Linked DNA regions of Homo sapiens: region 2 is linked to region 1. The links come from fine-mapping of genetic effects on gene expression. A gene starts in region 1. The other region holds a variant in brackets. All regions are shown on one strand. Distances are between the middles of the regions. Region 1 holds the start of MCM5 (minichromosome maintenance complex component 5). Region 2 has its middle 41 kb from the start of MCM5.

Evidence for each region. PIP is the estimated chance that this variant, and not a neighbour inherited with it, causes the effect.
Region 2: its variant is fine-mapped to the expression of MCM5 in whole blood (TOPMed, PIP 0.98).

The regions. Positions count from the first base shown.
Region 1 is chr22:35,397,916-35,402,304 of GRCh38, forward strand. MCM5 (minichromosome maintenance complex component 5) reads left to right here and starts at 2,225. Exons shown (of 17, transcript NM_006739.4): 1 at 2,225-2,293; 2 at 2,516-2,690. The coding sequence starts at 2,524. RefSeq lists enhancers at 1,770-1,819, 1,830-1,989.
Region 2 is chr22:35,438,680-35,443,068 of GRCh38, forward strand. It overlaps a transcript of MCM5 not described here. Among named protein-coding and RNA genes, the nearest start is that of MCM5, 41 kb to the left of the region's middle. The variant A/G (reference allele first, on the strand shown) is at 2,049.

The sequences.
Region 1 (4,389 bases):
GAAACTGTTAGTGTTTGTTTAAGTCTTTTTTTCTTTTCTTTTTTTTTTTTTTTGAGATTAAGTTTCACTCTTGTCGCCCAGACTGGAGTGTAGTGGCACGATCTCGGCTCACTGCAACCTCCGCCTCCCAGGTTCAAGCGATTCTCCTGCCTCAGGCTTCCAAGTAGCTGGGATTACAAGCGCCTGCCACCACGCCCGGCTAAGTTTTGTATTTTTAGTAGACACAGGGTTTCACCATGTTGGCCAGGCTGGTCTTGAACTCCCGCCTCAGCCTCCCAAAATGCTGGGATTACAGGTGTGAGCCACGGCGCCTGGACTGTCTTTTTTTTCTTTTTAGAGATGAGTCTCGCTCTGTCGCTCAGGCTGAAGTGCAGTGGTGCAATCAAAACTCACTGCAGTCTCAAACTCCTGGGCTCAGGCCATCCTCCCACCTTGGCCTCTTGAGTAGCTAGGACAACAGGTGTGCTCCACCATGCCCAGCTAATTAAAAAAAAATTTCAAGCCGGGCGCAGTGGCTCATGCCTGTAATCCCAGCATCTTGGAAGGCTCAGGCGGGTGGATCACCTGAGGTCAGGAGTTCAAGGCTGGCCAACATGGTGAAACCCTGTCTCTACTAAAAATACAAAAAATTAGCCAGGCGTGGTGGCACACACCTGTAATTCCAGCTACTTGGGAAGCTGAGGCAGGAGAATTGCTTGAACCCAGGAGGTGGAAGTTGCAGTGAGCCGAGATCGTGACACTGCACTCCAGCCTGGGCAACAGAGTGAGACTCTGTCTCAAAACAAAAAAAATTATAAAAAAATTTCTAGAGAAGCGGGATCTTGCTATGTTGCCCAGGCTGGCCTCAACTCCTGGACTCAAGGGATCCTCTCATCTTGGTCTCCTGAAGTGCTAGGATTACAGGCATGAGCCACAGTGCCTATAGATCAAGGTTGAGGCTTAGAAGTGAAGGGAGCCCAGAGGAACCTGGCTAGAGTTTGGTCAAGGAGAGTCTTTGTCACCATACTACAGAAAATTAAGCAGCTGTTAAACAGAATGAGGCCGGTCTGGGCATGGTGGCTCACGCCTGTAATTCCAGCACTTTGGGAGGCCGAAGCGAGTGGATCACTTGAGGCCAGAAGTTCGAGACCAGTGTGGGCAACATGGTGAAACCCTGTCTCCACTAAAAATACAAAAATTAGCTGAGCATGGTGGCGCCTGCCTGTAGTCCCAGCTAGTTGGGAGGCTGAGGCAGGAGAATCGCTTGAACCGGGGAGGCAGAAGTTGCAGTGAGCCGAGATTGAGCCACTGCACTCCATCCTGGGGGACAGAGTGAGACTCCCTCTCAACAAATAAATAAACAAATAAAAGCAGTGTGTTAGGGTGCGAGAACCCGGGTCGGGGACGCGGGTGAGCCGCGCGGTAATCGCCCTGTCCTGCCACCAGCTGGAGGACAGGGGCTCCTCAGAGCCTCAGGCCCAGAGAACGGGCCCCACGACCGGGAAGCGAATACTCCACAGGGCACAGTCTCCCAATGCAAAATGGGCACCTGGACCCAATCATTTCTGAACTTCTAGTTTTTTCTCCCTATGGCTATGAAAAGGGTCATTTTTTTTCATAGGACTTTAAAAGAAGGCTTAAGAAAAGCACGCAGGCCTGGCCGGGTAGCTCACGCCAGTAATCCCAGTGCTTTGGGACGTCAAGGCAGGCGGGTCGCTTGAGAGTAGAGTTTCGAGACCTGGGCAAGATGGTGAGACTCCGTCTTTATGAAATATTTTAAGAAAATCACGTACACCTGTGGTCCCCGCTACAAGGGAGGCTGAGGCGGAAGGATTGCTTGAGCCCAAGAGGTTGAGGCTACAGTAAGCCGTGATCCAGCCACTGCACTCCATCCCCGGCAACACAACGAGACCATGCGTCAGGAAAAAAAAAAAAAAACCAAGAAAATAAAAAAGAAACCACCTAAAGGCGTCCTCCGCGCGCCCGCCCCTCCGCCATCTTTGCGTCCGCCCCGTCCTGCGCCGCCACTTCCTTCCCAGCCAGAAGTTTCGCGCCAAATTGTTCCGCACACAAAATGGAGCCCGGAAGGAGGCGAGGTCATGCACTTTGCAGCCAATCATCTTCGGCAGACAGTCCGGGCGGCGGGGCTGGAGGGCTCAGAACGGTCCAATCGCTGGCCGCGAGGCTCCGGCGAACCAATGGGAGCGCAGCGGCTGCGGCGTCCGAACACCGCCTCTTGTTTTTCCCGCGAAACTCGGCGGCTGAGCGTGGAGGTTCTTGTCTCCCCTGGTTTGTGAAGTGCGGAAAACCAGAGGTGAGGCTAGTGGGAGTGGGACTGGGACTGGGAGCCAGCAGGCATCTGGATTTCCGGGTGTAGTTGGAGTGGGACAGGAGTTTCTCGGGAACTGGGGTTGGAGTCCGGGAGCGCGGCCGGGGGTCCCCCTGCTCCGGACTCAGGGCAGGGACCCAGGCGTCGGAGGGGAGGAGGTGCCAGGCGCTGCCCCCAGCCTGTTCTGGCCGTTTGTTCCCACCCCAGGCGCAGTCATGTCGGGATTCGACGATCCTGGCATTTTCTACAGCGACAGCTTCGGGGGCGACGCCCAGGCCGACGAGGGGCAGGCCCGCAAATCGCAGCTGCAGAGGCGCTTCAAGGAGTTCCTGCGGCAGTACCGAGTGGGCACCGACCGCACGGGCTTCACCTTCAAATACAGGTGCGGCTCCTGCGGGGCCGGGGGCTCGAGTTCCAGTGTGGCCGCTCACACGCCTCTACCAGCCTGCTAGAGTCCTGGACAGTCAGGGCACAGATGGGCCCAGACGGGGGAAAGAGCCGGTCCTGGGTCACAGGGCTCATCCCGGCAGCCTCACGCCTTGGTATAAGGCTTTGTGTATTTTGTTTTACTTTATTTTATTTTATTTTATTATTAACGTATTTGTTTATTATTTTGAGACGGAGTCTCGCTCTGTCGCCAGGCTGGAGTGCAGTGGCACGATCTCGGCTCACTGCAACCTCCGCTTCCCGGGTTCAAGCGATTCTTGTGCCTCAGCCTCCCGAGTAGGTGGGACTACCCCCGCCATCACCACGCCCGGATAATTTTTTGTAATTTTAGTAGAGATGGGGTTTCGCCATGTTCGCCAGGCTGCTCTCGAACTCCTGACCTCAAGTGATCCACCCGCCTCAGTCTCCCAAAGTGCTGGGATTACAGGCGTGAGCCACCGTGCCCGGCCTGCTTTGTGTATTTTATCTGTACCTGGAGTTAACTTCTGGGTGAGTCACCTGTTGAGTGGGCCACCAGCAACCAGCTAGCGCCACTTGGACCGTTTAGTTCTTTATCCAGATCTTGTTCCTGTTCATCTGCTTCCTATCATCCTTCCATGTCATGTCTGAGACCTTACAAACTCAAGTTCCCTGTAGGTGTAAAAGGTGAAGATGGCAGTTAGGATTCACTTCACTTCGCTCATTCATTTATTTATACCAGTCTTGCACCTTCATTGATTGAGCACCTGCTGCCTGCCAGATACTGTTCTGGGTGCTGGGCTGCAGCACTGAAGCTGGACCTGGCTCCTGCTTCTAGGTGATTGTACGACCTGTGACATCATGAGAATTCTCATAGGCCCGGCCTCTATCCCTGAAATGTTAAAATGCAGAGAACATGAGGTTGCAGGTTCAGCACTGGCCCATTATTAGCTGAGTGACTTCCAGGTGTCAGTGTCTCTGGGCCTCACCAGGCCAGAAATGGGTAAAGCCATTCCTGCTTTCACTTACTCATGCAGCAGCTGATATTGCCCACCTGTGTGCCAGGCACTGCGCTACAAAGATGAAAAGACGTGCTTCTTGTCCTAGAGAAGCTCCTAAGTCAGAGGAGTGAGTCGTGAAGACCAACAGATAACTTCCACGGTGGTCATTTCCTCCACAGAGGAAGGTGAAAGGACTTAGGGAAGTTTTCCGGGGGGCTGAAGTTTGAGGGGACCTTTGAGCTAAGGTCAGAGTTGCAGGTGTAGAAAGCTTTCTGTCTAGGTAGGAGCAATTGCTTGTGTAGAGGTGTGGGGTGTCCTCACAGCAAGTGGCTTTCAGTAGCAGTCTGGCCATTTTACTGGCTCCTGGACATAAGGGAGACGGGGCTCAGGCCTGTGATACTGCGAGGCTGGGGAACAGCCTGTGCGTTGGTCAGTGGTCCCCAAATATGTTCTTGCCACAGCAGTCACATGGGATGCTCTGCTAAGCATCTGGGCTGGACGCAGTGGCTCATGCTTGTAATTCCGACGCTTTGGGAGGCTGATGCCAATGGATCATTTGACCCCAGGAGTTCAAGACCTGGCTGGGCAACATAGTGAAACCCAGGCTCTATTTAAAAAAAAACAGTCTGACTAGAGGTTGATAAGGCAGATGTGTTTTCTGCTGCCTTGGTGCCT
Region 2 (4,389 bases), 41 kb after region 1:
CATCCATCCATCCACCCACCCACATATTCATCCATCCATCCATCCATCCATCCACATATTCATCCATTCACCCATCCATTCATCCATCTACCCACCCACATATTCATCCATCCATCCATCCATCCATCCATCCATCCGTCCATCCACATATTCATCCATTCACCCATCCACCCACATATCCATCCATCCATCCATCCATCCATCCATCCATCTACATATCCATCCATCCACTCACATATTCATCCATCCATCCATCCATTCATCCATCCATGCATCCACCCACCCACATATTCATCCATCCATCTACCCACATATTCATCCATCCATCCATCCATCCATCCACATATTCATCCATCCATTCATCCGTCCACCCACCCACATATTCATCCATCCATCCATCCATCCATCCACATATTCATCCATTCACCCATCCACCCACATATCCATCCATCCATCCACTCACATATTCATCCATCCATCCATTCATCCATCCACTCACCCGCCCATCCACCCACAAATTCATCCATCCATTCATCCATCCATCCAAATATTCATCCATCCATCCACCCACCCACATATTTATCCATCCAATCATCCATCCATCCATCTACCTGCATATTCATCCATCCAACCACCCACCCATCCATCCATCTACCCACATATTCATTCATCCATCCATTCACCCACATATTCATCCATCTATCCATACATCCACCCACCCACCCACCCACCCACATATTCATTCATCCATCCACCCACATATTAATCCATTCACCCATCCATCCACTCACCCACATATTCATCCATCCATCCACCCGCCCACATATTCATCCATTCATCCACCCACATGTCCATCCATCCATCCAACAAATACTGAACACAATGTGTAGCAGGGACAAACTAGTTAATGTAACATACTTAGGTTATCTTCTTCCCTCCTTTCCTCCCTCCCTGCCTTTTAGGGAAGAACACTCCTTCCACCCCCACTCTGTCTTTTAGGGAAGAACACTAAACTTGGAATTGGAAGTCTTATGTTCTAATGCTTCCTCTATCACTTACTAACTCTGTGAAGTTGGGCATTTAATTTTTCTAAACATCTCTGAACCCCATTTTCCCCATCTGAAAAGTGGGAATGCTAATACTTTGCAAGACTGTTGTAGAGATGCAACCAAATAGTGTGCAGGCCTGGCATGGTGCCCAAAGCAGAGTGGGCACACGCAGTGTTGGCTGCACCCACCTTCCTTATACATTGATTGCAGAACATAGAAATGAACCTGAGAAGAACGTGAAAGTGAACCTGAAAAGAAAGGAAGAAATAAAAAAAATCATCTAGAATCCCAGCAGTTTCCTTAAGTTGCCTACTGTCAATTTTCCATTTCTCTCGTCCAAATTCACATGGAGACATCATTTTTACACACTTGTAATCAATTGTAGGCGGAGTCTGGGGTCCTAGCACTTCCCCTAACATCATCTCATGATACTTAGACTTTAAAAGAACCCTTGAGTAGGCCCTGTGATAAAGGATGTTAGTGAAAAAAATAATGAGAAACAGGGACTTGGCTTAGAGAAAGAAGCCTGCGTCAGATCAGTAGGCCCCCCTGGGGCTGTGGAAGCATGCAGAAGGTCCCTTAGGAAGTGATGTTGGAAATGGCCTTGGGCCAGCCACGTTATTTCTCTGGACCTCAGGTCACCCATCTCTGAAATGGGAGCATTGAACTGGCTGATCCCTGAAGCCCCTTGAGGCTCTGGGGTTCTAGGGAGTATGTGACCCCTGAACTGCCTGGAATATCTTAGGTATGCCAGGTGCTACAGGGGTTGAGAGGGGAGGAGGTACGGACCCTGCCTTCCATGTCCTTACAGTCATCTTGGGGCCATAAATTCAGGCCAGAAAACCCATTCAAGGACAGGATATAAGGAAGAACAGTATAGCATTCTACTGCAGCAATGCAAACTCCATTTGACCCTAATCCTGGCCCAGTTGGCCAGAGTGGAACTTGTGCTTCCAGAGGATCCGAGGAAGGCAGGGGCTGGTCTGGAGGCAGGCATGC[A/G]TCTTCTTTGCCTCAGTGTCCCCAGAGTCCAGTAAAAAGTAAGATCCTGCCTGGGTGTGGTGGCTCGCACTTGTAATCCCAGCACTTTGTGAGGCCAAGGAGGGCCAATCACCTGAGGTCAGGAGTTCAAGACCAACCTGACCAACATGGAGAAACCCCGTCTTTACTAAAAAAACAAAATTAGCCGGGTGTGGTGGCGCATGCCTGTAGTCCCAGCTACTCGGGAGTCTGAGGCAGGAGAATCGCTTGAACCCGGGAGGCGGAGGTTGCGGTGAGCTGAGATCACACCATTGCACTACAGCCTGGGCAATAAGAGTGAAACTCTGTCAAAAAAAAAAAAAAAAAAAAGTAAGATCCCAGTGACCGTATGGTGAAGGGACCTTGCGTCCAAGGTGGGCCCTGCGCAGGAATGTGCGGGGAAAGGGGTTTGTGCAGAAGAGTCTGGAAAGCTTCCTCTGGGAGAGGCTGGAGAAGGGACTGGGCTGCAAAGCCCAGGGGACATGACCACTGTCTCCATCAGAGTTACAGGATGCTATATGGAAGATGGATTAGATGTGTGCTGGTGGCCCTAGGGGCAGGGCTGGGGCCAGAGGGAGGAGTGAGCTAAGGGTGGGCTCAGCTCAGGGAGGACAATCTCGCACTCATGGGCTCTTGGTTTGGGGACCAGAACAGCAGATGCTTGCAGGCTCTCTGGGTGCCCCCCCACCACCTCTACAGGCGCTGTGCTGAGTACTCTTCTATGTCAGTACCTATTATCCCTCACACAGCCCCATAGAGTAGGTGATTCCCTTGTGCTTATTTTACAGGTGTGGAAACAGGCACAGGCTAAGTCACATATTGGGAAGTGGAGTGAGTGGGATTGGAACCCAGGCAGTGGGTGTCCTGGCAGTGGGGGTATATGGGCAGAGGTGAGGGATGGAAGGGCAGAGGAGGACTGGGCAAGGTGATTCCTGAGGCCCTGTGGCTTCAGTGGCTTATCAGGGAAGGCTCCCTGGAAGAGGTGCCCTTCAGCTGAACCTTGAAGGCTGGGAAGGATCGATGGAGAGGAGCAGCAAGGGTGTCCCAGGCCAGGGAAGGAAAAAGCACAAAAGGCCTAGAGGTGGAATGTGGCATGGGTGTGAAGGTGAGGCCAGGACGAGTTGGCATGGCTAGAACTGCCTAAAGGAGATCCAAAGCCACAAGCCGGGCCTCTTGATCCGGTTCAGAGGCCCCTTCCCATTGGCCAGCCTGCGTGTTGCAACAGCATCCCACGGGTCCCTCCCTCTGTCCTTCCAGTCTCCCCTGTTCCCTTTCAGCTCCTCACCAATCTGGTCGAATCTAAATCTGATCGAGCTACTCCCTGCTCAGGAAACTCCCGTGGCTCCCCATTGCCCAAGGAGAAAGTCCACGCTCCCCTGCTTGGCGTTGTTTCCCGGCTGTCCTGTCCTTCACCCCCTGGCCCCACCTGACACCCCATGCCACCCGTGTATATTATACTCCAGTGCCAGCGGAAGGCCCACCACCCCCAGACACACCACTCACTTGCTGCCTGCCTGCTTGCGTGGTGGGTTCCTCCGTCTGCGCTTCTCTCTCTGCTCTTCGGCCTAGGGGGCCGACATCCATGGATGGAGAAGTGTGGCTACTAAAAAAGAAAAAAAAAAAAACATCACAAACTCAGTGGCTTAAAATAGCACACATTTATTCTCTTATGTTTCTATTCTCTTACGGTTCTGGAGGTCAGAAGTTCAAAATCAGCCTCACCGGGCTACAGTCAAAGTATGAAAGTGCAGGCAGGGCTGGTTCTTCCTGGAAGCTCTGGGGAGAATCAGTTTCCTCGCCTTTGCCAGCTTCCAGAGGCTGCCACATTGCTTAGCTCGGGGCCTCTAAGCCCGTCTTCAAAGCCAGCACCCTCCGATTCCCTCCCACCCTCTGGACCTGTCACCATCTCTCCTTTCTCTGGCTCTGCCTCCTGCCTCCTTCTTTAATGACTGTGATTACATTGGGCTCATCCTGATAATCCCCAAATAATCTCCCCATCTTAATTTGATCTCATCTGCACCTTTGCCATGGAAGGCGCCGTGTTCACAGGTTTCAGGGATTTGTCCATGAACATCTTTCCAGGCCACTACTCTGCCCCTGACAGGAGGCATCAGTGGGCTCTGTTTGTTTCCCATTGGGTTTGCCATGGAAACATTGGAGATTGGACAGTGGCAGGAGGATAAAGTGAGGGTACGTGTCCTTGGCCCCCTTCTCACGGGGTCCTAGCTCCTGCCCTGGCCTTTGGGTCCCCCTTCACAGCTCTGGAAACTGCATCCTCCTCTGGGCAGCCATGGAGATGGCTTTTGCTTTTCAGCCTGAGGAC